Linked DNA regions of Homo sapiens: all the other regions are linked to region 1. The links come from fine-mapping of genetic effects on gene expression. A gene starts in region 1. Each other region holds a variant in brackets. All regions are shown on one strand. Distances are between the middles of the regions.

Region 1 (10,337 bases):
TCCACCATCCCATAGGAAACACTCTGGTGCTGAGCACCAGTGACCTAATCACAGAATTCAATCTTCTCTCTTCAGTCATCATCTTATTTGGATTTCATCGGGCAACTGACACACAATGAGCCCTATCTTCTTCAAAGGCTTTTCTTTTTCCCACAACTCCACACTCACATTTCTTCTTTACCAGCCATTGCTACATGTCTCCTTTGTGAACTCCTCGGTTTCTGTCCCCTTTCATGTAGGTAAAACCCAAGTCCTATCTTCAGCACTTTGTTCTCACTCCCTGCATGATCTCAACCAATCCAGTCATTTCAACAATGTCTTCCATTCAAGTTATTCCCAGGTCACCACACCAGCCCACACCATGCCCCTGAGGAACAGGGCCTAATAATACCTAACTGCCTACTCAACAGCTCTACATAAAGTCACTCCTTCCAGACAGAACAAGCTCCTTATCCCATCTTCTTCACATTTCTTCTCAGGGAGGTTAAGAGGCACCATCCTCTAATCAAGTTAGAACATTTCATTCTCTCACCCTCTGCATCCACTCACTGCCAATTCTATCTAAAGCATACTACTCCTCTTTTTGAAGTCCTACTACTGCATCCTATTGCCTACCAAATGAAGACCAGCTTCTTAGTGTGATATAAGGTCCCTTATGATAGGCTCCTGCCTGCCTGTCAGATTCATCTCTCATTAAGCTTCTCATTGCATGCTGTACTTCAGTTAGAACCAATTACAATACAATGCTGTTTCATGTTTCTGCCCTTTTTCAATCTGTGCTCTTCACCTGAAATGTCTTTCCCCCAAACTAGCCTACACTCACATCTGACCCTTGTCTGCTTGGCAAATTCCTACTTATCAATTAAGTCTCATTCACTTCCTCCATAGGGCCTTTTCTGATCCCACCCCCCTCAGTAGATATGATGGCCCATTGCTTCTTTCATGGCTTCAAATCACTTAACTGCAATGTTTGTTTACATATCTGTCTCATCCTTATCCAATTAAATTATATTCTTTAAATTACTAATTTCATATCTGACATTTTGTCTAGCACATGGTATAAACTGAATGTGGAACAAAAACTGTTAGCAAAACTCATCATTCAGTAGTCAGGGAGAACAGCAGAATTGCATTATGCAAGATTTTACAGCAGTGAACTAAGAATCAGCTATTTTGTGATTTAATTTACCAAATGTAAATAATACAGACATAATCCAATTAGTTCTGTTCTTTTTACTCTCATGTACTTTTCTATCTTCTGATACCTTACTGCAACTCTGAATTATCTGTTGGCCTTTATATTTTTTTGCTCTGGCAGCCCCATTAAGTCCTATTATTCACTGAGTCAAAAATGTCATGCCAAGTCTTGGATGGGCCTATCCTAGGAACCTCTGGAGTCTCACTGTAGACTCTTCCCAAAATATCAGGATCTAGCTCTACTAATCTAGCAATAATCAGCCCTCATATTTATATTTCTCCTTTATCTTATATTAATCTCATTTCATCCTCATAATACAAATAATTGGTCATGTTTCATTAATAACATTTTATAAGTGAAACACAGGCCAAGAAACCCAAAGAAGATTTACCTTTTATAAGTTCACCCCATACAAAAACCTGAGGAATTCTATACTTTCTGATGTCCAGGCCTCATTTATTTCCTTTGAATACCATTTTCCAAAGTCACATCCTATTCTTGTGCTTCATCTGCCAGCACTTTGACTTTCCTTTTATTTCTGTCTCCCAAATGATCGCTTCCTGTTTGTGCGTGTGCTTCCACACTGCTGATCTGATCACCAGCTGAACATTCCAACACAATAACTTTTCTCCCCCTTTCGACTTCATAATCCAAAGACTTTGACAAAGGAATATGTATTTTATGAGTTTCACCCCAGAGTCCATTCCTCTGCAAAAATCTAAATGTAACTTTTACCCATAACCTAGTTTTTGAAGGGCCTTTTTTCTGAACTCAGGCAATTATAACTGGATGACTCCCAGGCCAGTTCTCTGCATTTGTCTTCCTTTAGTTGCTTTCCTCTAAAACCAGGCAGGAAAATCAGAGTTTATGTAACTTTGTTAAACATGACTACTTCTACAAAAATATTAATAAATGAGGGTGACACAAACTACTGGGGGGAAATGAGGTTCAAAATGGCCTATAGCTTTTTCTATACTCCTCAACATTCTCTCACATTGAGAGTTGGTTTTAGCTCTCAGCCTGAAAATTCCTCACTTTAACTGCCCTCACTCTGTTCCCCACTGCATAGTCTGTCCTTTGTGGCATTTGCCTCCTTTAATGTTAACAAAAAGTGGAAAATGATAAACGAGCAGGAGTGAACACAGAGTAGTTACTTTAACTGTGTCTTTATTCACAGGCGTTTAGCCCACAATCCCATAACTGTATTCAGAGGAAAGGGCTGAGCTCAAGAGGATACCCTTTCCCCACTCCCAGCACAAACATTCCTTTACCTTCAAAGTCTGAAAATAACTTGCCCTCCCCACTTTCCTCTTAAAAACAATGTCAGAGAAAAACAATGACCAATTCTGTAAATTAGCTCCACTGGTTAGACCAGATATCAAACAGATTCAACCCCTGGGAGGTCACTAGGCCTCTTCTACTTCCAAGAACTTCTAACTCCCATTAGTTCCTCTTACTTGTCAGTCATCAGGAAGAACATAAATGGATCTGTGCATTAACATTTATAAAAACATACAGCCAAAGGCAGGCTCAATAGCGTCCTCCTATATATTTTATTTATTCTCATTTTTCAGAAGGAAAATGTAAATTTCAGATCTCAACGGATGAGTCACATGCAATTTCTAAAGCCAATGCAGTAAGGACCTGTGATCAAGTGAACCCAGCCTTCCTGAACCTTCTGTCATCTCTCTGCCCCTCCTTTCAATCTTTGTTTTAGGTTGCAGACTCTTCTTTCTAGGTATACATGTGTAGGACATGTGTTCATCTAAAAGATTAGTCTAGTTGTAGAGACCAAAGGCATCACTTCTATTGACCCTGACCTTCGCCTACTTCAAGCAGATTTTCATTACTAAGAATCGATGTTATCAGAAGCTTAAGACTTTTCAGTTTAGAAAAATATATTCTGCATATTAGAAGTTGGGGGCTGGAGGATAAAGTTTATCTTGTCACAACTGTTCAATCTGAGATGTCCAAGAAGCAGCTTTCTGTGGAAACCTGGAATAATGGATTATTCCCAGGTGATATGTAAAGTTGTAGAATATAGATTAAGCTCATTATACTAAAAAGCCCTAAAATTAAACACAGCTGTTTGTTGAGCTCTTGCCCTGATTTCCCCAATTACAACATTGCTGTGTGTTCGCACACAAGCCTTTGATCCGATTCTCTTTCATTTCAGTCTGTCCTGGGACCTGTACTGTAGGAGAGAAAGACGAAAATCCATAGATGATGGATGATGTGTAGAACACAGATACTCTGTAATTCAAGTCTCGGTAAAATTCAGAAGTTAGAGCAACATACACAAACAAGAGGGTCTGGCCTTTCTTCCCAGAGGGGCTATTGGCTAACCTATTTTTGCTACATTAATTAAAACGACCCATCGCCCTGATTCCTAACAATCTTCCTAAAAACAGTATCTATTCCATATATCCTCCCAACACAATCAAAGTAGGTCAGAAATGTTGCTTCCTTCCCCTCATTGATTTTCATTAAGAGGATGCACTTTCTGAACACTAAATGGAAAGATAAACACCCAATACAAGAACCAATGACACCCCCTGTAAATTTTTGGCACACTGTCTCGTTCTTCTAAAAGCCAGATAAAAATCTCATCTCCCATAGTTTATCCTTTTTGGCTGTAAAACAACAATGATTACAAGCTATAAAATACACCGCGGCAATACTTCAGCCAGGTGATAAAGCACCTCCCAAAAGAAGCATATTCACTGTCTTTTCTAATTTTCTCCATCATCAACCTGCATCTTCTCTACCAAGTACATACTCCTTTTTTTTCCCCCCCAAATTCAAATCCACATTTTGTCAGAAGGATGCTAAGTGACACCATACATTGGCTTAGCAAACCCACAGGGCCTTAATCAGGAAGCTGAGGGCAGGGGAGTAGGACGAAGGCGTTTGCAGAGACAGGGGAGTGGAGACAGGGGGAGGAGGAGCGGGAAATCCTCTGGTGTCTGTGTCTGGCTCTCTGGAAAAGCTGTGATGAGATGGTTCTTCAAATCCCACTGGTGGGGCTTCCCCAGTCTCCTCCCCTTCCTGAAATCTTTCCCTCGACCCCAGGTCCTCAAACCTGGCTGTCCAAAAAGGACGCCGCAAAGTCCTGCAGAGCCCCCAAAAGACACAAGCGCGGACAGAAAAGCATCCCCCGAGAGACAGCGAAGCCACACACCCTCTCCGGGCCAGCTACCAGGGCGGGCAACTTCACCCCTCGAAGCAAACGAAAGCCCCTGTTCTCCAAGCAAAGGAAAAGGGGATGGCAAACAGAAATAAACAGGAACCGCTCTCAGCCTTCATCTTCCGCGCCCTCCCCCAGCAAACTCCAGGTAGAGGACCAGGTGCTGCTCACCTCCTGGCAAGGAGGAAGCGGGCGGCTGGAGGAGGAGGGCAGGTCCCCAGCCCAGGCCGCCTGGCAGCCGGCGAGCGCCCAGCAGCAAATCCAGGCGGGGCTCCAGGGCGGCGAGCGCCCGCGGCGGGGAGCCTCCGCCGGCCGCCCCCAGCCCCTGCCCCGTACCGGCCCCCGGGCGCGGAACAGCATCTTCGTCCGGCCGCGGTCGGCGGGCCGGCGGCAAGGCAGCCTTCCCGGGGTGCGGCGGCAGCTCCGGCTCCCGGGCCGCGACTGCTGTGCGCTCGTCTCGCCGCTCCGTCACCCGCTGCCCGTCCGCCCGCTGACAGCTCTGCTGCGCTCGCGGCCCGGGCAGCCAGCGCCGATGCTCCCGTCACGCCGGAGGGAGGGACCGCGGGGCGCGGGCGCGGCGCGGGGGCGGGACGCGGGGCGGGGACGCTGGAGCTGGGGAGCAGGTGGCGCGGGCGGGGGCTGCGGCCCAGCCCGGCGGGTCCCCAGGGGCTGCGCGGCGCTCGCCTCGCGCTAGAGGGCGAGAGAGGCTGGGGACCCCGTGGAGTAGCCTGTCTCAGGTCCCCGTGGCCCACTGGGAGGGGCGCTCCCGGGATGAAGCCAGAGTAAATACAGGACATCAGGACATTGTTTTCTGGCGGTGGGTCTTTAAAAAGCTCGCCACTTTCCTCATTGCACACAAACACGCAGATGTGCCCTCGGAACATCCCTTGTAAGGATCCATGCTGGCTAGCGTCAGATCGAATTTCTAGTTAGGGTGTGCATGAAATGGCGGGGAAGAAAGAGGACTGAGGTGTAGACGTGGTGTGTGACTCAGTTTTCTCACCTATTTAATGAAAATAATACCCACCACGTAGGATTATTATGAGGATTAAGTAAGTTGATGTACATAAAGCACTTGGAAGAGTGCCTGGCACACAGTAGGTGACATGTGTTGGTAGTAGTAGCCATAATTATTGCTGCTATTGGTGTTATTTTGTGGAGATGTGTAACATTGGGCATTAAGCCCTGTGTTTTCTGGAGGAAACAGTTTCTCCATCTGTGCGATGATTGAGGTGCTCTTCGTTTTTTCTTTCATTCAAAAACATACTGAACTAGGTGATGGTGAACAAGATGGACATAAGGCCTTCCTCAGTGGCAAGGATCTCAAGATCCCTTCTTGATCTCAGATTCTGTAAATGGGTGAGTTATTGTGTTTTTCAAAAGAAGCATCCAAATTTCTGATTATTGAATATCTGGACAAATCCACGTGGCCCACTCATTATAAGTTGGCCTGTGGCACATTTGTTTGTGGCATTATCTCTAATATCCTTTTAACAAAATTTCCACATGAAAGTCTCTGTATATGTGTGTTTGTGTGTATGTATACACATATAGATTTGTGTATCACACCTATATTCTGATTATAACAATATATGTTATTTGTAAACATTTTGGAAAATATTGAAAAGTATCAGGAAGAATATAAAAATAACTAGAGATCCTACCACCCAGAGATAACATTGTTAATGGTATTAACATGTTGAGGAATTTCCTTGCTTTTTTTTTTTTAACTCTGTGTGTACTGCAAAACTGGAATAATAATTTGTAACCTGCTTTTATTTTTATTCTTAATAACATAAATATTTTCTCAAGTCATTAAAGTCTCCAACAACACAACTTTAATAATTGTAAAATATTTTCTACTCTTTAGATACATGTAATTTACTATTAGATATTAGGCATTGTTTAAGGATTCAGTGTTATTAATAATTCTGGAAAGAATGCCCTTGGAACATAATCTGTGTGCATCTTTAAATATTTTATGATAACTTTCTAGAAGTGAAAACATTGGATCACATGATATGTGTATTTTTAAAGTTTTTGACGAATAGTGTACAAATTCCTTCCAAAAAATTTGTAGCAATTGTTACCAGCAGTTTATGAGTATTTATTTCACATCACCCTAGATTATAATACTTCAGATATTTATCATTTTGGTAGAAGAGACAAAAGCTATTATTTTTAAAATGTATTTTTATCATTGGTGACATCGAGTGATTTTTTATATATATCTACTAGCTATTTGCATTTTTCCTTCTCATGTCAGGGTGTGAGAATTTTTCACTGGCACACTTTAGCCATTTTATTGAAGTTCCATTTTTTATTGATTCGTTAGCAATCTTCATAAGCTTTGTGTATGTTTATCATATATCTTACAAATACTTTTTTGTAGTCTTTTAAATTTACTTCTGATAGCTTTTCTGGCAGAAGCTTGTCATCTTTAGGTATTCAAATGTAGCAACATTTTCTTTTGTGATTTCTTCCTTTTTTATATCTAGAAGTACACGTATCTCTGCAAAATCATACAGATGCCTATGTTTTCTTATTTTGTTATATTTTGTTATTATTTCCTTTTTATATGCTTTATTCTTTAATTCATGTGGAATTTTTAGGAGTCAAATTATGTTATGATTTTTGTCATCTGAGAAAGAACTAACAACATGACTATTAAATTGAAAACAGCTTCTTTCCTTATAAAAATAAGAGTCGTCCAGTCAATGCACTTGGATCAAATGACAATTGTAGATTTTCCAGAGTAGGACAACTTGCCACTTTCAATAAATACTTTTCTCATAGTTGTCCCATCCATAAAAAAGATCTTGACCTTGGATAATTAAAATCAGCATAAAGGCTGACAGAGAAAGGAAATTTCAAGAAGACTCTAAGGTCCTCTTCTACCTGTTATTTTAGGATGTAATAGCAAATTATTCAAAGTTTGTGATTATCTGATCAATAAATTTACTCTTAAAGATAGTTTTATAAAAATATACTTTAATAGAAAATTCATAATGAAATTTTTGCAAGAATGGGTTGAAATAGCTTACAATCACTAGGTAATAATCATTTTTCCACTTTATTTGTGCAGTGTATACCTGAAAATTGAACTGAATTTTGTTAAAAAGTCAACAAAAGCCTTAGCTGTATCAACAAAAGCCATAGCCAAAATGATGCTATATAAATAGATTTATTTTCTTTTTTAACTTAAATCAGATTGTGGTATAAATAACCCCAATTTTTATTTATTTTATTTTTATTTTTATTTTTATTATTATACTTTAAGTTTTAGGGTACATGTGCACAATGTGCAGTTTAGTTACATATGTATACATGTGCCATGCTGGTGTGCTGCACCCACTAACTCGTCATCTAGCATTAGGTATATCTCCCAGTGCTATCCCTCCCCCCTCCCCCCACCCCACAACAGGCCCCAGAGTGTGATGTTCCCCTTCCTGTGTCCATGTGTTCTCATTGTTCAATTCCCACCTATGAGTGAGAATATGCGGTGTTTGGTTTTTTGTTCTTGCAATAGTTTACTGAGAATGATGATTTGCAATTTCATCCATGTCCCTACAAAGGACATGAACTCATCATTTTTTATGGCTGCATAGTATTCCATGGTGTATATGTGCCACATTTTCTTAATCCAGTCTATCATTGTTGGGCATTTGGGTTGGTTCCAAGTCTTTGCTATTGTCAATAATGCCGCAATAAACATACGTGTGCATGTGTCTTTATAGCAGCATGATTTATAGTCCTTTGGGTATATACCCAGTAATGGGATGACTGGGTCAAATGGTATTTCTAGTTCTAGATCCCTGAGGAATCGCCACACTGACTTCCACAATGGTTGAACTAGTTTACAGTCCCACCAACAGTGTAAAAGTGTTCCTATTTCTCCACATCCTCTCCAGCACCTGTTGTTTCCTGACTTTTTAATGATTGCCATTCTAACTGGTGTGAGATGGTATCTCATTGTGGTTTTGATTTGCATTTCTCTGATGGCCAGTGATGGTGAGCATTTTTTCATGTGTTTTTTGGCTGCATAAATGTGTTCTTTTGAGAAGTGTCTGTTCATGTCCTTCGCCCACTTTTTGATGGGGTTGTTTGTTTTTTTCTTGTAAATTTGTTTGAGTTCATTGTAGATTCCGGATATTAGCCCTTTGTCAGATGAGTAGGTTGCAAAAATTTTCTCCCATTTTGTAGGTTGCCTGTTCACTCTGATGGTAGTTTCTTTTGCTGTGCGGAAGCTGTTTAGTTTAATTAGATCCCATTTGTCAATTTTGTCTTTTGTTGCCATTGCTTTTGGTGTTTTAGACATGAAGTCCTTGCCCATGCCTATGTCCTGAATGGTAATGCCTAGGTTTTCTTCTAGGGTTTTTATGGTTTTAGGTCTAATGTTTAAGTCTTTAATCCATCTTGAATTAATTTGTGTATAAGATGTAAGGAAGGGATCCAGTTTCAGCTTTCTACGTATGGCTAGCCAGTTTTCCCAGCACCATTTATTAAATAGGGAATCCTTTTCCCCATTGCTTGTTTTTCTCAGGTTTGTCAAAGATCAGATAGTTGTAGATATGCAGCGTTATTTCTGAGGGCTCTGTTCTGTTCCATTGATCTATATCTGTGTTTTGGTACCAGTACCATGCTGTTTTGGTTACTGTAGCCTTGTAGTATAGTTTGAAGTCAGGTAGCGTGATGCCTCCAGCTTTGTTCTTTTGTCTTAGGATTGACTTGGCGATGTGGGCTCTTTTTCGGTTCCATATGAACTTTAAAGTAGTTTTTCCCAATTCTGTGAAGAAAGTCATTGGTAGCTTGATGGGGATGGCATTGAATCTATAAATTACCTTGGGCAGTATGGCCATTTTCACGATATTGATTCTTCCTACCCATGAGCATGGAACGTTCTTCCATTTGTTTGTATCCTCTTTTATTTCATTGAGCAGTGGTTTGTAGTTCTCCTTGAAGAGGTCCTTCACATCCCTTGTAAGTTGGATTCCTAGGTATTTTATTCTCTTTGAAGCAACTGTGAATGGTAGTTCACTCATGATTTGGCTCTCTGTTTGTCTGTTATTGGTGTATAAGAATGCCTGTGAGTTTTGTACATTGATTTTGTATCCTGAGACTTTGCTGAAGTTGCTTATCAGCTTAAGGAGATTTTGGGCTGAGACAATGGGGTTTTCTAGATATACAATCATGTCGTCTGCAAACAGGGACAATTTGACTTCCTCTTTTCCTAATTGAATACCCTTTATTTCCTTCTCCTGCCTAATTGCCTTGGCCAGAACTTCCAGCACTATGTTGAATAGGAGTGGTGAGAGAGGGCATCCCTGTCTTGTGCCAGTTTTCAAAGGGAATGCTTCCAGTTTTTGCCCATTCAGTATGATATTGGCTGTGGGTTTGTCATAGATAGGTCTTATTATTTTGAAATACGCCCCATCAATACCTAATTTATTGAGAGTTTTTAGCATGAAGCGTTGTTGAATTTTGTCAAAGGCCTTTTCTGCATCTATTGAGATAATCATGTGGTTTTTGTCTTTGGTTCTGTTTATATGCTGGATTACATTTATTGATTTGCGTATATTGAACCAGCCTTGCATCCCAGGGATGAAGCCCACTTGATCATGGTGGATAAGCTTTTTGATGTGCTGCTGGATTCAGTTTGCCAGTATTTTATTGAGGATTTTTGCATCAATGTTCATCAAGGATATTGGTCTAAAATTCTCTTTTTTGGTTGTGTCTCTGCCCAGCTTTGGTATCAGGATGATGCTGGCCTCATAAAATGAGTTAGGGAGGATTCCCTCTTTTTCTGTTGATTGGAATAGTTTCAGAAGGAATGGTACCAGTTCCTGCTTGTACCTCTGGTAGAATTCGGCTGTGAATCCATCTGGTCCTGGACTCTTTTTCGTTGGTAAGCTATTGATTATTGCCACAATTTCAGATCCTGTTATTGGTCTA
Region 2 (10,337 bases), 45 kb before region 1:
AAGGAAGCAGAAGAAGACTGGTGTTTCCAAATCCTTTCTCTGGCTTTCTCACCTCTAGCAATAAAAAGGCCCAAGGTAACCACTGGTTGTCAAGCAGGCTAATAAGTATTTAGAATGCTCACAAAGCATTTTACAAGTTCATCTTTAAAGAAAGCTATTAACACCCTCCACAGTACAACGAGGGTTATTTGTATGAATTTATTAGCTCTTCTGTTTTTCTCCAGTAAACCTAAAAAAGCTTTAAAGAACATCCTTTAAAATCTGTATATAAAATTCTTTTTATAAACACTACCTTTGAAGGTCTTTCCAGGTAAACTCATTACGAAAGAAAGAAAGAAAGAAAAAAAGTCCAAGTTCAAACCATTCTATTTCTCTAGAGGTCTCTTTTCCCAGTTTCAGAAATAAAATCTGTGCCTGTGGCTATTGTCAAACTTTACAGTGGAATTTACATTTAATATTTCCTACAAAGCTTCAGTCTACAACTGATTATAATTCTTAGAAACAAATACATTGTATTCCAATGGGAGAAAAACTAAAAGCAAAATTCTTAATACTCTCCACCCACACCAATAGTTTTGTCAGCTTTCCAGTTGGAAATCTTTGAAACTGGGATTCAAGTAGAGCTAAACTGATTTAACAGATATAAATGGAGTCAAATAAATCTCCAACGTAGGAAGTGAAAATGTACTATCAGAAGTACTACCTATGTCTTTCATCAGTGTTCATATTAACACAGAACTAAAATTATAGGCTACATAGGGGAAGACTAAGCATCCTCTAGCATTTCAGAAAAAAACAATGAATTCTGATACATTTCTATGCATTTCTACTGAAGGATCACTAAAAACTTTTAAAATGTGAGTTTCTCTAAGAATTTCTATTGTTTTTTAGAGCTGGCAGAAGAGATGACCCTTTGAGTAGAACAGAGAAGAGCCTTGTTCTGCTGCTGTCTTTACCATTTCTCTAGGGATATTATAGCACAATCTGCACAATTCACAGACAGGTACTATTATAGTTTAAAAACATAAAGCCAGTGAAAATTCTATGTTAAGACAATACCTGCACTGTTTAGGGAATAATGACAAGAAAAAAATCCTTACATGTTCAGGACAGATGCCATTTTTTTTTTCAAATAGTTTCAATCTGAGGTTGGTTGAATCCACAGATGTGCAGCCCACAGATACAGAGGAACCACTATATACATAATTTTACATTGTCCAAGTTTATATGAGTAAAATGTTACTTTTAAAATAAAGGCTTTGGAAAATAAAAAAATGTCAGCACTGTCCTGGATTAGATAAATTTTTAAAAAGAAAATATACCGACCAGGTGCAGTGGCTCACACCTGTAATCCCAGCACTTTGGGAGGCCAAGGCGGGCGGGTCATGAGGTCAAGAGATCGAGACCATCCTGGCCAACATGGTGAAACCCCGTCTCCACTAAAAATACAAAAAAATTAGCTGGGCATGGTGGCACGTGCCTGTAGTCCCAGCTACTCGGGAGGCTGAGGCAGGAGAATCGCTTGAACACGGGAAGTGGAGGTTGCAGTGAGCCAAGATGCATGGCGACAGAGCGAGACTCCATCTCAAAAAAAAAAAAAAAAAAAGAAAAGAAAAAGAAAATACACCACCACAAAACATGTTTGCAAATGAACAATTGACTTCATGCTGCATTAAACAAAGTAATAAAGGAGAGAACCTTTCCTAGACTGAATCCATGTCTGTATACCTGAAAATAGCATCCAGCTTTTTAAAACTCCTAATACTACTGAATGCTCTGGTAATATTCGGTTCTTATTGATAGTAACAAACTTTAAAATAATTCATACTTGAGTAATAATTGCAGATATTTATAACTCTTTTTAATACAAATACTCAGTACAATTTTTCCGTTTCAGTGAGTTCACAAAATTGCCAACTGGCTTAACATTGTTGTATAAAAAATACAGCCTTGTTTATCCAGCTTTTACCAACTTGGTGTCTTGGGAGCTTTCACAGAAGCACATAACAACCACCTATAATGAGAAATGTGTTGGTGGGTCACTAGGGAGTTGATCATTGAATAAGCTTTTCATATTTCTTTACTTTCTAACAATATTAAAGGTATATTTATAGGAGGGGAAGAAAGATGACAGAAACAAAAGACAGGGTCTATATGTTTTAAATATTCAGCATAACATCTGTACCAGCTATATATTATATACTTCTGAATAGAAATATAAGCTATAAATGCAAGTCACATGTGTAATTTTAAGTTTTCTAGTAGTCACATTAAAATGATTTTAAAAACAGGTAAAATTAATTTTAATAATATATTTTAACTTGATACCATTTGAACAGTAACAATATAAAAATATTAATGAGAAACTACATTCTTTTATTGTACTAAATAATCTAAATCCAATGTGTATTTTACACATATAGCACACTTCAATTTGAAATAGCCACATTTAAAGTGGTCAATATCTGGCCGGGCGTGGTGGCTCACACCTGTAATCCCAGCACTTCGGGAGGCCAAGGTGGGCAGATCACAAGGTCAGGAGATTGAGACCATCCTGGCCAACATGGTGAAACCCTGTCTCTACTAAAAATACAAAAATTAGCTGGGCATGGTGGCGCATGCCTGTAGTCCCAGCTACTCGGGAGGCTGAGCCAGGAGAATTGCTTGAACCCAGGAGGTGGAGGTTGCAGTGAGCCGAGATTGTGCCATGACACTCTAGCCTGGTGACAGAGTGAGACTCCTTCTCAAAAAGAAATTAAAAAAAAGTAGTCAATATCCACAAATGGCTACTAACCACAGTATTAGTCTAGTTCTACTCTTTCTACATTCAGTCAGTATGTTTTTATTCAATTATATCATATCTCTCCTAAGCTAGGGATCATTTTTGCATTTAGGACAGGCATTACACAACAGATGTCTGTACACAAAGTATCTGTACTTTCTGTTCACATACTTTTTAGAAGTACTTTGTTCAGTACTCTGTTCGGTACTTTTCAGAAAGTATCTGAACAGATACTTTCATTGCAACAAAAATAAAATAGGAGTTAATCTCATGTTAGCAGGGCTTAAAAGAACATTCCAACTTGAATGAACAAAGTATAACAAAAGTCATATCTTCCATGGGTCCTTTGGCAGAAGGTAGCTTTAAATCTGCAACTGTTCTAGAAGAGAAGAAAGTTCACACAGCCTGCCACTGCTGTGTGACCAGCAAAGCACTATTCTAAAATCCAAGAAATTTAATGACTAGAAAATCCTCTAAAAAATTGACCATAAAAAATGTTAAAGCTGGCCCAAATAGGTTGGAAATAAAGCACAAAATCATGCTATTGCAGTAACAAGCCATCAAATAGAACACAAAGAAGCACTTTGCAAACTTCCTCATCATTTCTGCTATTACTCTAAGATATTTATCTTGTGTTTCCAGACCTCAGTCTCCAATCTTACAAAATGAAGATAATATACCACAAGAATATATGCAAAAATGGCCAAGAAGGGTCTACTTTATATCACAGTTTATATTCAATTTCAATAGAAGAGAATGAAGCTCAAGATATTAACCCAAGCTTGCTCAATCGTTCCCAGTGATCTAGTGGCAAAAGCTCTAGCACTATAAATCATCTCATACATACATCGGGGTAAAAAATGTTAACAAATACCCTAAAATCAGAAGGGAAAATACTGTCATAAAGACAATGTATTCAAGTCCCTCATACTAAACTTGAGTTTAACTCATATCAAAAAGCTATTCTTAATCATATAATGAGCTTGTTTTCTGATTATTTTTAAAATGCCCAGGGTTTTCTTAGGTAACATGAGACAGCAGATTAGGCAAGCAAGACAGGGTGAGGTGAGTGTTAGATACCTAAAAGTTGCCACATTGAGAAGTACCAGCAGGGATGGAGTGAGGAAGGAGCAGGTGGTGAAGAAGATTATGGTGAATTATAAGGGACACTGATGTAGAGTCAAACACACCAGGAACAGCAATGACAGACTCTCAGTAAATGTTGGATTCCCTTCATAAGCATCTCCACAATGATTAGCTTACATCATCAAATTAACTTATGTTCAATTTTATTTCATTTTATTAAATAGAAAAATTTCCCTCAAAAACCAGCCAGTCGAGACTTATTATTGGTGATTCCATATTTGCAAATTTTACTTGCTAAAATTTACTTATCACCACAAAATCAATACTCAGTAATTTCCTAGTTATGTGTGAACATGCACAGTGCAGTGAAATATTGGAGTCACCTGACACACACATTCCCAGCTGAGACCAACAGGTGATGCTCTGCCTTCTTGTTTCAGCTCCCATACTGTCACTGAGTGTCCTTTTCCCAGTATATTTCGTGCCATGTTTTTCACTTTTTTTTTTTTTTTTTTGCTTTATGTTGCTTTAAAATGGTCCCAGAACATTGTACTGTCTAGAGTTCCTAGAAGGCTTTGATGTTCCTTACAGAGAAAATACATGTTAGGCAAGCTTCCTTCATGTATGAGTTACGGTGCTGTTGGCTGTGAGTTCAACATTAATGAATCAACAACATAGATTAAATAAGATCTCTTAAAATGGAAACACATGTAAAACAACATTATATTTCAATCTGCTGACAAAAATAAGACCAGAGGCTCTTGTATTTTTTTCTAGGACCAATTGTTCAGTATTGGCTAATTCAGTCTTCATGGCAACTTCACAGATCATAACTACTATGAATAATAAGAATTAACTATTTATGGTAAAAGCTTCAGTGCTTATAAAAGTGACATTTCCAGACAATTACTTAGTAATACTGGATTTTGTGAAGATGAAGCTATAATACGAAGCAGAATGTAATGGCCAAACACGGGTTTACACACAGAATTTCAAGAACACCTATGTCAACACCACATCCACTCTATCAATAAACACAATCACAATGTGAGTCACAAAAAATGTGACGCTTAAAGAAATAACTAAAAACCAATTTTGCCAGATTAAGTGAAGCAAATATGAGTGCATATTTTAAAATTTAAATTTTGATTTATACAATCAACAATTTAACATAAGAAATTTGCAAAATTTTTCTCTTACCCACTATAGAGAGCTCTTGATTCCTGTAATATAATTACACAAGAACACACTAAAACACTCCATAAAAATGAAATATTGTTCAATTCACTTCAAAAAACAACTGCTATGGGAGGAAGTTTTTGGCAATAGTAAATATGTTTATTATTATGATTGTTATGATGGTTTCACAGGTGTATGCATTTGTCCAAACACATCAAATTGTA[T/C]ACATTAAAGATGTGCAGTTTTCATATATAATTATATCTTTATTGATTTCATACCAGTAAAGCTGGTAGAAAAAAAAAGAAGTGGTGCGCTGCAGGAAAAAAAAAGCAACTGCTATGACTATAAATTATCACCATATAATAAATAAATTTGCACATGCTAATAGAATGACAGATTTATATTCACAAGAAATAACCATTTAGAATATTACAAAGTCTGTCTTTAATTTTTTGCAAATATTTTTGCACTATATTCAAAAAGTGCCTTTTAATTTTAATATTTTATCAAAACAATCTTTATCAATATTCTCTATCAAAATATAAGACCAAAAACAAAGCTGATAAATCTGTTGTGAACTGCAACACTGTCTAAAGGTCGTTTCTTATTGGACACAAAAATAAGTTATTGGCTTTAGACATTATCTGACACCAATTTTAATCCTAGCTCTTTCCTACTCTCCTGCCTAAAATTTATTCAGCAAATATAAACTATTTTTAATTCCTCACTAACAAAAATTATAAAACCTTTTTACTAAAAGGCTTTCTGTTTTAAGTCCTTCAAAGATGAAAAATCTGGCCAGACATGGTGGTTCACAGCTGTAATTCCAGCACTTTGGGAGCCAAGGCAGGTGGATCACATGAGGCCAGGAGCTCGAGACCAGCCTAGCCAACATGGTGAAACCCTGCCTCTACTAAAAATACAAAACATTACTTGGGCATGGTGGCGGGCACCTGTAGTCCCAGCTACTCGGGAGGCTGAGGCACGAGAATTGCTTGAACCAGCTACTCCCAGCTACTCCCAACTGCTCCCAGCTACTCAGGAGGCAGAGGTTGCAGTGAGCCAAGATCACGCCACTGCACTCCAGCCTGGGTGACAGAGCAAAAAATATATATGTTTTTCTAATGATAATGATATTCCTGTATTTCATATTTCAGATTGGGCTCTTTACACAACAAATTTTCTTAAAGTAGGTTGTCAGTTAACAGGCCAGTTTCTTAATTAAAGCACTGGAAGTAATGCAGCAGTTTCCTTTCCAGGTAACAAATCTCTTTCTAAAGGTGTGATTACCTTCACACTCTCAAGTCTTCCCTAAATTAGTGTTGTGTCCTTTTCTGTGCTTAGTGATTCCTGTGAAACTGAAACCTGAGACAAACAAATCTAAATACTTGAAAGCAAACAGAAAATTCTTAATCTTCAAGACAGAGAAATGGGTCATCATTTCTCAAAGACTTTTATAAATGAAACTGTTCTGTATGTTAGTGTTTATGTGTATAGGGATATTTTAGACTCAAAATGTATCTCTGTTTTCAGAATGAGATTATTCATTGCTGATAAAATATAAAGCTCTAGGTTAGAAAGTTTTAGGATTTACAAGTAAGGGGATGGGTAGAAATAGGGATGGACAAGACTCCATCTCAAAAAATATATATATATTTTCTAATGATAATGAATATTCCTGTATTTCATATTTCAGATTGGGCTCTTTACACAACAAATTTTCTTAAAGTAGGGTGTCAGTTAACAGTCCATTTCCAGTGCTCTTAATTAAAGCACTGGAAATAATGCAGCAGTAAGAGGATGGGTACAAGATGGGTAGAAATCACAGGAGAAAAGAGCAATGCCCCAAAAATTTACAGGTAATGTTGCAATTGCTTTTATCAATGATGTAAGAACTGACCATACTGAAGTATTTGCCACATCCAGTTCCGTAACTATACGGAGTATAGTAACTATTATATATATATATAATATATAATATAACATAACTGTAATGAACCAATCTTCTCTCTATACCTGTAATCTCGCCCAGTAACTACACAACGTGGGTTCTGAATGTCCATGGAAAAGGAAAAGGTAAAAGTTGATAACAAGGTGAGTCATCATCAGCAAACAGCAGCACCCAAAGTAAAAAGTTCTCTAAATGTCAAAACAACAGACTAAGCATGATCAAATAAAAGAAATCTCCTTTCCAAAAACCTGTCTTCAAAAAGTAACCAAAACCCAACTTTCCAACAAGAATAAAGATAGAAAACAAGTCTTTTAGATTCCTATCCTACTCATTCTCTTACATTCATTTTCCACAGTTGGAAAAATAAATTAGAGAGGAAGATGAATTATCACAGAAAAAGAAAAAAAGATAAATGCCATAATGTTGAAGACGAAATTTGTATTTGATTTTATGTATTAAATTTGAAAAGACATCCAATCCTCAGCTTTTACATTCCTGGCAATCTCATTTCTCTCTCCAAAAACTTGTAAGATTCAAAAATTAGATACACTCCATTTTGGGGGAATTTATCCAAGGAAATATCTAAAAATAAATATCTAAATACAGCAAAGATTTTACTATCACATTGTTTATTATGAACTGTAATGGCAAGAAGTAGAAAACAGTCTAAATGATCAACGATGGGGAACTGCTGAAATATATTTTGATATATCCACACAGTGGAATTCTGTACTTATTTCAAATTGTATACATCTGCCCCTGACTTGGAAAAATGCTCATAATAGATGAGTATAAAAATGAATTTTTATTAAATGCGAATGAATGCATACATATGAAAGGGGAATGAATATATGCTAAGGTATTAAGAGTACTCAGAATGCTTGGTTTGCTTATATTTCCTAATTTCTTTTATAATAAACACATATTTTTGTTTGTTTGTTTGTTTAAAAGATCTATCAGAAGTAAAACACAAAAATAGGCTGAGCGTGGTGGCTCGTGCCTGTAATCCCAACACTTTGGGAGGCTTAGGTGGGCAGAACACTTGAGCTCAGGAGTTTGTGACCAGCCTGGACAACATGGCAAGACTTCGTCTCTCCAAAAAATACAAAAATTAGCCGGGCATAATGGTGTGTACCTGTAGTCCCAGCTACTCAGAAGGCTGAGGTGGGAGGATCACTTGAGTCTGGGAGGCAGAGGTTGCAGCGACCCAGGATCTCACCACCTCATTCCAGCCTGGGTGACAGAGTGAGACTGTCTCAAAAAATAAAATAAAATAAAATAAAAGCAGATAAAGATTAATAATTGTCATTAACATCATCAGCCTAAAGTAAACAGAAGTTCCATTTCACACTGGCAGAAAAGTCACTTCTTTTGTTTTTGTTTTTTTTGAGACAGAGTCTTGCTCTGTCGCCCAGGTTGGTGCCAGGCCCAGTACAGTGGCGCAATCTCAGCTCACTGCAACCTCTGCCTCCCAGGTTTAAACGATTCTCCTGCCTCAGCCTCCCAAGTAGCTGAGATTACAGGCGCCCGCCACCATGCCCAGCTAATTTTTGTATTTTTAGTAGAGACAGGATTTCACCATCTTGGCCAGGCTGTTCTCGAACTCCTGACCTCGTGATCTACCCGCCTAGTCATCCCAAAGTGCTGTGATTACAGGCGCGAGCCACCACGCCCGGCCAGAAAAGTCACTTCTAATTCTATATTTAATGAGAGAAAAAATGCTAGATACTCACATAGGTTAGTATCAATTCATATAACTTATTTCCCTGACATGTAGGAATATTTTGCCTATTTATAATAAAGGCAAATGATTTGGATTGTCTAAGAAATGAGGCATTCTAGCTAGATGATTTTCAAAAGGTAAAAACAATTTCACCCAAAAATGAACAGGTTCAATTTCCTGTAGGTAAATGGAGTATGATGAACAAAATTTAATACTTATTTGATGAATGAGGATCTTAGTGCCCGAAAGTTCAATGCAAGTTATAAAGCTGTGGACACAGACAAATACAGAGAGAAACTACATGAATGAGTTTGGACTCAAGCATATATTGTGGAAATGGGTTCCCTGAATAAATCCCAGACATGCACTTGTTTTCTTGTGATATGTGTCTGTCTCTGAGCTTACGGTTCAAATTCAGATCCTAAACTTAGTGTACTAGTAGCCTTGAGTTAACTGTAGTTTTTTTATAAGTCACTGGAGAAAGTTATGTAGCAAAATAAATACTAAGACAAGCAGTATTCCATGTTCAAACAAGACAATATTAGAATGTTTTGCTCATTATCAAACATATACACCAATCACCTAAGGGAGACTTGGAAAAACATGTGAGCAAGGCAGAAACTTCTAGAAAAAAGCAAAAAATGACAGAGATCACTTCGTTAAGACATTTAACTTCTCTGTGACCAAAATACCATAGATAAAATAAGACAAACAGCAACATAGAAAAAAATATATTTCTAACAGATTGTCAAGATTTACATCTTCATTGTATTTTTGTATTTTTGTTTATTTATTTTTGAGACACGGTTTTGCCCTGTCACCCAGGCTGGAGTATTGTAGCACAATCGCAGCTCACTACAGCCTCAACCTCCCAGGCTTAAGCCATCTTCCTGCCTTGCCCTCCTGAGTAGCTGGGACCACAGGCATATGCTACTACACCAATTTAAGTTTTTGTATTTTTTGTAGAGACCTCATTTCAGATGTTGCCTAGGCTGGTCTTGAACTCCTGGGCTCAAGCGGTCTGCCCACCTCAGCCTCCTAGAATGCTGGGATTAAAGGAATGAGCCACGATGCCCAGCCCATTATATTTTTCAAAAATCTCTTCTGGTCATTAGGAAAAAGACAAAACTCACTAAAAGTCATTAAGCAGGCATTCACAAAAGGAAGAAAACAGTATCTGGTAATGTTTTATATAAATAGAAATTTTAAAATATGAACTGGACACTATTTTTGTTAAAGTAACAGTGATTATGAATAAAAGTATATTGGCAATCAGAAGAAGAAACAGACACTCAAATATTGCTGGTAGTATGTAAATCAGTATAACATTTCCATAGGGAAATTTGGCAGTGTGTCAAAAGCCTTAAAAGTACACACTTATTGACAAAACATTTCTATTCCCAGGACTCTATCCCTAGAAAATAATTAAGTAGTATTCTATATAAAGGGATATTCATTGCACTTAATATAGAAGTCAAAAGCTAAACTTTTATCACTTGATATTGGTAAAATAAATTCTGTTCATTCAAAATTATGTTACACCAATATAACATATTTTTAGTTTTTCATTAAAAATTATTTTATACCAATATAGCATATACAATATTTTTAGTTTT
Region 3 (10,337 bases), 25 kb before region 1:
ATTAAAGACACCACTAATAATTAGATGATTACTAACCATGACAAGAGATTCAGGAAAATAAGTGGGATAAAAGCCTGACTCTAGTGAATTGGAAAGAGAATTGAGGAAATAAAGGTAAACAATCTGATTTTGAAGAGATCAGGAAAACAAAGCCATAGCTGAAAATTTCAGGTTAAGGATTAGCCTGCCTCTGTCATAGAGAGTGCAGAACTCACTACTATGATGCCAAGTAAGTCACATTTATTCTCCCTGTCCTGTTAGGGTGATCACCTACTGCTACAAAAGATGGATTCTAAGACGAGATAAGCCTAAATGGGACATGTCAGTCAGTCACAGTACATACCAATACCTTTTCTCTTCCTGGAACAATATAAGAAAAACATAAGCGTCCTCAAAACTTGCAAAAACACTATTAGTCTAAAAGAATGCTTATCTTGTTCTAAATGCAAACATGTTAGTCAACAGAATTCTCATCAGCTCCCACCAAAAGAAAAAAAAAGAAAGAAAGAAAAAGAAAAAATACAACTAAACCTAGCTATCTTGATGGATTTGTGATTTATGGCATTAAACTGAATTAAGTTTGGCCTAAAGCTGCCACCGTACATATTTTGAGTTTGGCATAATGGTTTCTCCATACATTATGAACTATAACCTAACTTGTGTAAACAGACTGTAATTTCATGAAAAGTAAACCCTTATAACAAGTAGCTGAGTCTCAAATCACAGTAGCTGCAGACAACCAGAGGCTGAAAGCTGCCAGATTACACCCAAAGAAGGTACATGCCAGCTGTACCAATCAAGTACTCTCTGTATGTCATTTCTTATTTTCTCGTTATATAGTCCACCAGGTTTGTAGGTGGGGGTACTCTGTTACCCCATGGTGTTGATGAAGACATACCCAAGACTGGGTAATTTATAAAGAAAAAGAGGTTTAATGGACTCACAGTTCCACATGGCTGGGGAGGCCTCACAATCATGGTGGAAGATGAAAGGCACATTTTACATGGTGGCAGACAAGAGAGAATGAGAGTCAAGTGAAAGGGGTTTCCCCTTATAAAACCATCAGATCGCATGAGACTTATTCACTACCACGAGAACAGTATGGGGAAACCACCCCCATGATTCAATTATCTCCCACCTGGTCCCTCCCACAACATGTGGGAATTATGGGAGCTACAATTCAAGATGGGATTTGGGTGGGGACACAGAAAAACCATATCACCACCTTCATCAGGAATGCTGTCTGGTTCTAGAACTTTTTTCTTGCTCAAATGTTAAATTTAACTCCTCTCAGTTTTTCTTTAACAATAGAAACATAATTTCAATTAGGAATGAATATATTTAATTGTTCATCCAACTGAACACACACAAAGACTGTTTTCATTTCCATACAGTATGTCAATGCTCATTACCATGAACTAAACAAAGTCCTCATTTTAGCCTCTGAATGAGTGGCATGAGATCCACATTTCTCACCTGCACTCCCAGAGACATGCATTCATTAATTGATAGTTAAATGATCTACAGACAGGCAAGTAAGTGAAAATATTAATAGTTCTAACAGCAGGCACATCTAATAGACTAACTGAATGGTTAGCTCCAAAAATCAAGATTTATCAGAACAGCGTTAAATACTGAATGAAACAAAGAATCACCTACAGGAATATCTCAGAATGCCAAAAATCCTTTAGTACTTACACTTACATGTTTAGACTGCTGCGGCTAAATTTTATAAAGAACTTACTGGAGTACTCACTAGTTAGTATTTAATGATCATAGATTACATTATCTTATTGGAGCTTAAGAATATCAAGTGCTATGATTACAACTATATTATGTTAAAAATAGGTATATTAAATAACAAATTGTGTATAGCCATATAGTAGACTACTACTCAGCAGAAAGGAACAAACTTGATACACACCACAATGTGAATAAACCTCAAAAATCATTATGCTAAGTGAAAGAAGACAGCCCCCCACCCAAAAAAGAGTACATGCCATACAATTCCACTTATCTAAAATTCTATAAAATGCAACTGAATCTGTAGTGACAGCAGATCAGTGGCTGCCTAGGGACAGAGTGGAGGAAGGGTTAGATTACAAAGAGAAACAGGAAACTTTTGGGGATGTTGAAAATGACTATCTTGATTATGACAATAGTTTCATGAGTGCTTACATATGTCAAAACTGATCAATTTATATACTTCAAATATATGTATCTGAGTGCACTTCAATTAAGCTTCCATAAAGATTTGTTTAAAGATTGAGGCAATGATTTAACTTCTATATAAAATGTCTGAATATCACTTTAAAGCAGCATCATTTGCTTATGAATGATGAATGAACTAATAACAAATGATTGCTATTAAGTGGGCTAATATCTGTAAAACACTTACAGCAATGCCTGAGCCATATTAACTGATAAGTCTTAAAAGAAAGAGGTGTAAGGAAGAGAACAAAAACAAAAAGATGTAAAATGACAGAATTACACATCAATTTGTCCATCAATTTTTATTCTGAATTTTCTTTGGAATATAGTTTTCCAACAACAGAAAAAGGCCATCTGTTTTTGAAGTTTTACAGATTTCTGGTTTAAGATGACATCAGACTAACAAATCTCACTCTCACCTCTTCACGTACATCCTTCACTCCCAGAAATGTACAGATAAAAACAGAGGCAGAAAATGCCCTAGGTCCAGTACCTATCATGTGCTTCTTCACATAGAAGAACCACAGACAGCTCTGTTTCTTTAAAACATTCTCCTAATCGAGAATCTAATAGACAGAATGAGATCCTCAAAGTTCATCAGCATAGCATAAAAAGGAAGTTTCTCAGACAACAGAAACTGGACTAGGAACTCTGCACAGACATGCTATCAAGACAGGAGGACCAGTGGCTACCTACACACCTTGTGTGTGAGTAAAACACAGCAGTACATAAAGCTTTCCTTGTGAAAATGTGGAATTAACATCTACCTTGGAGGAGACGAAAGATTTCTGAAACACATGAGAAAAGGATCTCTACCTTGAAAAAAAGAAATCATGTGAAAATGATTGGCTACTGGGAAAAACTGTAAATAGCTGCCTGGTACACCTAATAAGATTCGATCAATAGCCTCTAAGAATCAGTCATGGAGAGCTGTAAGCATAATAGATCAGTTCTGTGTAGGCAGAGTGGGAGGTAGTGGAGTTCAGTGGAAAGTGAGCTCTCTGGAGACAAATCTATCCCAGCTTTATGGCTCACTAGCTTTGTCATCTTTTGTAAGTTATTAATTGCCTTTGAGCTTCAGTTTCTTCATCTCTGAAAGCAGAGGCATGGACTTCTGTGAGAAAAGTGTTTCACACATTAACTACTCAATAAATGGAACTTGTTATCAAAAAAATCGAAGATAATTAACTGACAAAACGTTAGAATTAATAAGACAGCCCTGTAAGAAACTAGATACACAATTAATTTCTAAAAACCAGTGGCTTTTCAACATATCAGGGAAAAATCAATTAAAAGGTAAAGTGGTTGGCAGAAAAATGTCATGGAAAATAGTAACATAAAATAGTTCAGAATACAAAGATTGTGCTAGTGAGAAATACAGAATGCCTCAATAAATGCTAAAACAGACTGTATGTCTTTAAATGTGAAGATAATACTAAAAATATGACATTTTTTCCAAATAAATGGGCGAACTTAAGAGAATCCAAAAAAAATTTTTAACTTTTCAAAATTATTCTGAAGTTGAACTGAAAGACTAAATAAGTGAGAACAGCTGAGAATGAAAGAAAATTAAGTGCCACCATATAAAACTATATTATAAAACTCTGCAATCTGTACAAAAAAAATCAATAGTGTAGAAAATAGCTCAAAAGAAATTGAATAAATGTGCATATATATAATATAGCACATATTATATATAAAACAATAGCTTATAAATTTTTATATATCCACATACACAATAGATGGTATAGAAAACAGACCAACAGAAAAAGGATGAATTATGGATTGTTCAAAACACTATTTGTAAAAACTGGTTATTCAGGGAACAAAGTCAGAGACATATCAAGTACTTAATAAAATTCTTGAGGAATCAAAATAGGGGAGTAAGTTCATGTCATATTTTTAAATGCCAAAAAACATTACCAAACTATATGTACATAATATTACCATTTTGTAACCATATGTGTACACTGATAATGAAATACATGCAAAGGACTTTTGATATATGTAATAGAGGCAGTATAGTCTGATGGTGAAAAGTATGGGCCCTGGTGTAGCAGCTTGGATTCACAAGTAACTTAAACATGGGGAGAAGATGCGGCGGTTCAAGCTTACCAATTAGAGTTAGGGAGATGAGTGAGTTAATAAATAAAAATGCACTTAAAATTTTACCTGGCTATTGTTATTATTTATTATTCATATTACAAATACTAAGATGTTAAAAGTGGCATGCTTATTTAGTGAGATTATGGGTGTTTTTATTGCTGCATTTTTCTGGAATGCATATATTGCTTTTAACTTTAAAAGGTGACAAATGTAGAAAAAAATGAGATCATTAAAAAAAAACCTCAAGTAAATGATCTTAATATTTATCTGCTCTTTAGATAGGGAAGCACTTTCCTAGCATAACAGGCTCAGATATGTTTAAGCATCAATTATTATTTTGGTTCAAGTTATTTCCTGCTATGCATTATTTATATGCCTAAGAATTATCAAGTAGAAGTCTGCATTACATTTTCAAGGGTCAGTTCTTTCTGCTCTTAACGTTAGGAGGTAGGGTTAAACACCAAAGGGCACTGTGTTTTTACACTGTAGCATTCTTAGAATAAAGTGCTAAGTAAGACAGAATAAGAATGTGTGTGGCCAGGCGCAGTGGCTCACGACTGTAATCCAAGCACTTTGGGAGGCCAAGGCGGCTGGATCACCTAAGGTCAGGAATTCGAGACCAACCTGGCCAACATGGTGAAACCCCGTCTCTACTAAAAATACAAAATTAGCCGGACATGGTGGC[G/A]TGTGCCTGTAATCCCAGCTACTCAGGAGGCTGAGGCAGAATTGTTTGAAGCTTGAAGCAGGGAGGCAGAGGTTCCAGTGAGCCAAGATAGCACCACTACACTCCAGCCTGGACAAAAAAGAGTGAAACTCCGTCTCAAAAAAAAAAAAAAAAAATTGTGTGCTAGCTACGACTAATGCATCAAGGTCAAATATTTATCTTCTCACCAGTTACAGTAGGTATGGATATACCCCTGAGCAGTCATTGAACTGCCCCTTAAATCCAGCATAGTGAAATTGTCAAAGTTCAGTAAATTAGAACTCATGGCTCCTACACATGGAACCTAGGTTTGCAATCCATCCAAAGAAGCAGCTCTGCAATTTTCAGAGTATAAAGACAAAGCTCATGGCTTCTGCATATGTAAAACACCTTCTAAGATGAACTAAATTCTGCATCCTTTTGTCTACTACCCGCTAATCCAAATCTTGTCCTCTAAATGAGCATTATAGCAATTATAGCATTATGACTGCACTTAATATATTTGAAGCTCATGTCATGGCCCCCTCAAGTCTACTCTAAGCTAAACAACCCCATTTCCTTTGGTTAGTTTCCCGTGACGTACTTTCCAAATAACTAATCTTCCTAATTCACATCTCAAGCCAATGTCACCCTTTGTCAATATCCCTCTTCAAATATTGCATCTAAGTTGAACTAATGACCTAATATAAATGTCTACCTTCCACAAACAAGGCATTCTTCTCATATAAACAGAACTCAAGACCCTCCATCATTGCTTTTGCAGCCATATGACAGCTATGGCTTCAGAAGTACTTTTAAGTAAAATTTTCCCATTCTATGCTTGAACATCTGATTTTCAGAACCAGAAAAGAACAGTCTACATTTAAATCAATTATGTTGGATTGCCCATTATTCTAGCCTTTTGAAATCATTTTGAATCCCAATTCTGTTTTCCAACTCATTAGGAATCCTTCTCAGCTTTCTGACTTTACAAAATTTGGTTATGCCGTCTCAAAACCCAAGTATTATTTAAAATGGTAATAGTAAAACAGTAAAAGGACAGAAATTAGATATTAAGCACAAAAGTATTGCATTGGAGATGTTCTTTCAGTTTAGCATCACATACATTAATAATCTTAGTATACATTTGTTCAAATAGCCAGGAATCTGCCTAATATTCCGTCATTCATCATATACTATGCATTTTGTCAATAATGATATGACAATTCAAATGTCTCACTGTAGGCCAAGCATGGTGCCTCACACCTGCAATCCCAGTACTTTGGGAGGCTGAGGTGGGATGATTACTTGAGACCAGGAGTTCAAGACCAGCCTGGGCAACAGGGTGAAACCCTGTCTATACAAAATAATAATAATAATACAAAAATTAGCAAGGCATGGAAGCATGTGCCTGTAGTCCCAACTACTCGGGAGGCTGAGGTTGGAGGATCACTGGAGCTCTGGGAGGTCAAAACTATGTGAGCTGTTATTGTACCACTGCACTCCAGCCTGAGTGACAAGGAGACCCTATCTTTAAAAAGGGTTTGCTGAACTATTCACAATAGCAAAGTCATGGAAGCAAGCTAGGTGACCATCATTGGTGGATTAGATAAAGAAAATGTGGTACATATACCCCATGGAATACTATAGAGCCATAAAAAACAACAAAATCATGTATTTTGCATAAACATGGATGTAGCTGGAGGCTATTTTCCTAAGCAAAGTAACACTGGAACAGAAAACCAAATACCGTATGTTCTTACTTATAAATGGCAGCTAAACATTGGGTACTCATGGAATTAAAGATGGCAACAATAGACACTACAGACTATTAGAAAGGAAAGGGAAAAGCAGGGGCAAGGGTTGAAAAACTGTTGGGTACTATGGTCAGTACCTGGGTGATGGGATCATTCATATCCCAAACCTCAGCATCATACAATATGCCCAGATAACAAACGTACAAATGTACCCCAATCTAAAAGTTGAAAAATTAAAATAAGAAAACACCCTGAATATTAAAAATCACCCTGCCTATATCATACTCCAGATTTACGGGTCTCCTTCCCATCAACCTCCAGTCTGCTTCTGTGCTAATGCTAATCCTTCTCTACTGGCTGTACCTTCTCAGTTTCATCCTCAAATGCTTCTCACTCTGCTTGCTTCTTAAATGCTGTTGTTTCCCTAAGCACTCTCCTCAACACAGTGCTCTTGCTATATGCTCAGAGCCTAAGTGACCTCATCAACATCAATGGCTTCAATTACCTCTTATGTACTCATGGCTCCCAAGTTGTCTCTCAGCTGCACTCCTGTACATCCACCTGTCTTCAGGAGAGCACTGTTTGTGTGTGCCCAGGGTACTATAAACTCAGGATGTCCAATGCTGAACTCATCCTATTTCCCGCCCCCACCACCACCTCCTCCTTTTCCTTCTCTCAATTTTTTTATCTCAATAAAAGACAGCAGCATCTACTCAGACCAAAAACTTATAAGTCATGGTAGACTGAAATGTATCACTCGGTTGCAGACTCCTGAAAATAAGATGTCTTTAATAGCTGTAAAATCCATCTATTCTCTCCCTCTCCATTCATACTGTCATGTGTTTAGTTCTGTTAGTTATTTTCTCCCCGTGAGAGAGGCAAGAGTCTCCTAACTGATCTTCCTGCGTCCAATGTGATTTCCCTTTTATGTTCCTTCATTTGCCAACAGAATAATCTTTCTAATTTGATGTTAATAGCGCTTCATAGCTTGCCTCGCAAGACCTTCAGTCTCTGACACTTCTGCCACCACCACCCACGTGCCCTTCAAGTTGGCCCTTGAAATTATAATATTATTTAATTCCTCTTTGATGTTATACATGTTATTTTCTTTGACTGAGATGTGGTGGTCTCTGTGCATCCTGTAAAGCACTACTATAAATCCTTCCAAACTCAGCTGAAACATCACTTGCTCTGACACCAGAGTTTCTTTAGTCTGATTTAGTTGCCTCTTCTCTGTGCTTCTATACAGCCCTGTGAATGACTCCATCACAGCACTTAACCCATCTGTACTATCATCATAGACTATCCTATAATTTTTTCCTGTGAGATACATGCTAGATGAGCTAATAAACATATGAATGGCAACTGAAAAAGAAGTAACAGAGAATGAATAGTCATGAAATATCTAAAACACACTCTTAGAACCAAGAATACCAATCCAAGTGCAAGAATTCTTGGTCACTTTGTAGCTGCTTCCATATTTTTCTCAAACACCTGAAAGCCTTCATATATTGTAATGATTTAATAAGGTATTATGTACCAAACATTCTTTTTGGAAATTAAGATGTATTACAGTTTGATATGTTAAGGGAGGTAATTCCATATACCTTTTTAGGGACTAAATAATTGCTTTCTCTGGATATTACATATCTCAAAACACACAGATAAGAAAAAGTCTAGGGAAATATATATTATCCTTATTATACTAAAAGCTTGTATACATAACGATGCAAACACCTAAATAGGAAATCTCACAAAAAGTGAAATACAAAAAGCTAAGTGACACGAAAAATATTGACCTTCATGAGTGATTAAAGAAATGCACATGTTAGGTCACAAAATAAGTCTTAATACATTCAAAAGACTGAAACAATATCAAGCAGCTTCTCTGGCCACAGTGGAATAAAACTAGAAATTAATAATAAGAGCAATTTTGGAAACTATACAAATACATGAAAATTAAACAATATGCTCCTGAATGACCAGTGGGTCAATGAAGAAATTGAGAAGAAAATTGAAAAATTCCTTGAAACAAATGGTAATGGAAACACAACATACCAAAACTTATGGGATACAACAAAAGCAGTATTAAGAGGGAAGTTTATAGCTATAAGTGTCTACATCAAAAAAGAAAAAAAACTTTAAATAAACAATCTAATGATGTATCTTAATGAACCAGAAAAGCAAGAGCAAACCAAACCCAAAATTAATAGAAAATAATAAAAATCACAGAAATAAATGAAATGAAGAAAATACAAACGATCAATGAAACAAAAAGTTAGTTTTTTGAAAAGTTAAACAAAATTGACAAAACTTTAGCTAGACTAAGAAAAAAAGAAGATACAAATAAATAAAATCAGAAATGAAAAAGAAGACATTACAACTGATACTGCAGAAATGCAAAGGATCATTAGAGGCTACTATGAGTAACTATACGCCAACCAACTGGAAAACCTAAAAGAAGTGGACTAATTCCTAGACTCATACAACCTACCGAGACTAAACCAGGAAGAAGTCCAAAACCTGAACAGACCAATACCAATGAAATCAAAGCCACAATAAAAAGTCTCCCAGTAAAGAAAAGCCTGGGACCCAATGGCTTCACTGCTGAATCCTACCAAACATTTCAAGAAGAACTAATCTCGGTCCAACTCAAGCTATTCTGAAAACCCAAGAGGAGAGAATACTTCCAAACTCATTCTACAAGGCTAATATTACCCTGATACCAAAACCAGACAAAGACACATAATAAAAAAAACTACAGGCCAATATCTCTGACGAATACTGATGTAAAAATCCTCAACAAAATACTAGCAAAATGAATTCAACAACACATTAGAAGGATCATTCATCATGACCAAGTGAGATTTATCCCTGGGATGCAAGGATAATTCAACATACGCAAATAAATCAATGTGATACATTGGATCAACAGAATGAAGGATAAAAGCTACAAGATCATTTCAATTGATGCTGAAAAAGCATTTAATAAATTTCAACATCCCTTTATGATAAAAAAAAATTTAAAAACTAGGTATAGAAGGAACATACCGAGGGAGGAGCCAAGATGGCCGAATAGGAACAGCTCTGGTCTACAGCTCCCAGCGTGAGCGACGCAGAAGACGGGTGATTTCTGCATTTCCATCTGAGGTACCGGGTTCATCTCACTAGGGAGTGCCAGACAGAGGGCGCAGGTCAGTGGGTGCGCGCACCGTGCACGAGCCAAAGCAGGGTGAGGCATTGCCTCACTCGGGAAGCGCAAGGGGTCAGGGAGTTCCCTTTCCTAGTCAAAGAAAGGGGTGACGGACGGCACCTGGAAAATCGGGTCACTCCCACTCGAATACTGCGCTTTTCCGACGGGCTTAAAACACGGCGCACCACAAGATTATATCCCGCACCTGGCTCGGAGGGTCCTACGCCCACGGAGTCTCGCTGATTGCTAGCACAGCAGTCTGAGATCAAACTGCAAGGCGGCAGCGAGGCTGGGGGAGAGGCGCCCGCCATTGCCCAGGCTTGCTTAGGTAAACAAAGCAGCCGGAAAGCTCGAACTGGGTGGAGCCCACCACAGCTCAAGGAGGCCT

Alleles and levels. Positions count from the first base shown, and alleles are read on the strand shown. Sizes are in standard deviations (SD) of each study's normalised expression. Not every link is listed here.
For the expression in skeletal muscle of the gene that starts at base 4,886 in region 1, G is the low allele of the variant in region 3 and A is the other (moderate effect, 0.56 SD a copy in GTEx).

Evidence for each region.
Region 2: its variant is fine-mapped to the expression of ELAPOR2 in whole blood (TOPMed, PIP above 0.99).
Region 3: its variant is fine-mapped to the expression of ELAPOR2 in skeletal muscle (GTEx, PIP above 0.99).

Annotation. Positions count from the first base shown.
Region 1 is chr7:87,054,769-87,065,105 of GRCh38, forward strand. ELAPOR2 (endosome-lysosome associated apoptosis and autophagy regulator family member 2) reads right to left here and starts at 4,886. Exons shown (of 22, transcript NM_001142749.3): 1 at 4,557-4,886. The coding sequence starts at 4,745. RefSeq lists an enhancer at 3,848-4,348 and silencers at 4,614-4,683, 4,774-5,163.
Region 2 is chr7:87,009,663-87,019,999 of GRCh38, forward strand. All of the region lies in intron 1 of ELAPOR2 (endosome-lysosome associated apoptosis and autophagy regulator family member 2), which reads right to left. Among named protein-coding and RNA genes, the nearest start is that of ELAPOR2, 45 kb to the right of the region's middle. The variant T/C (reference allele first, on the strand shown) is at 5,272.
Region 3 is chr7:87,029,949-87,040,285 of GRCh38, forward strand. All of the region lies in intron 1 of ELAPOR2 (endosome-lysosome associated apoptosis and autophagy regulator family member 2), which reads right to left. Among named protein-coding and RNA genes, the nearest start is that of ELAPOR2, 25 kb to the right of the region's middle. The variant G/A (reference allele first, on the strand shown) is at 5,003.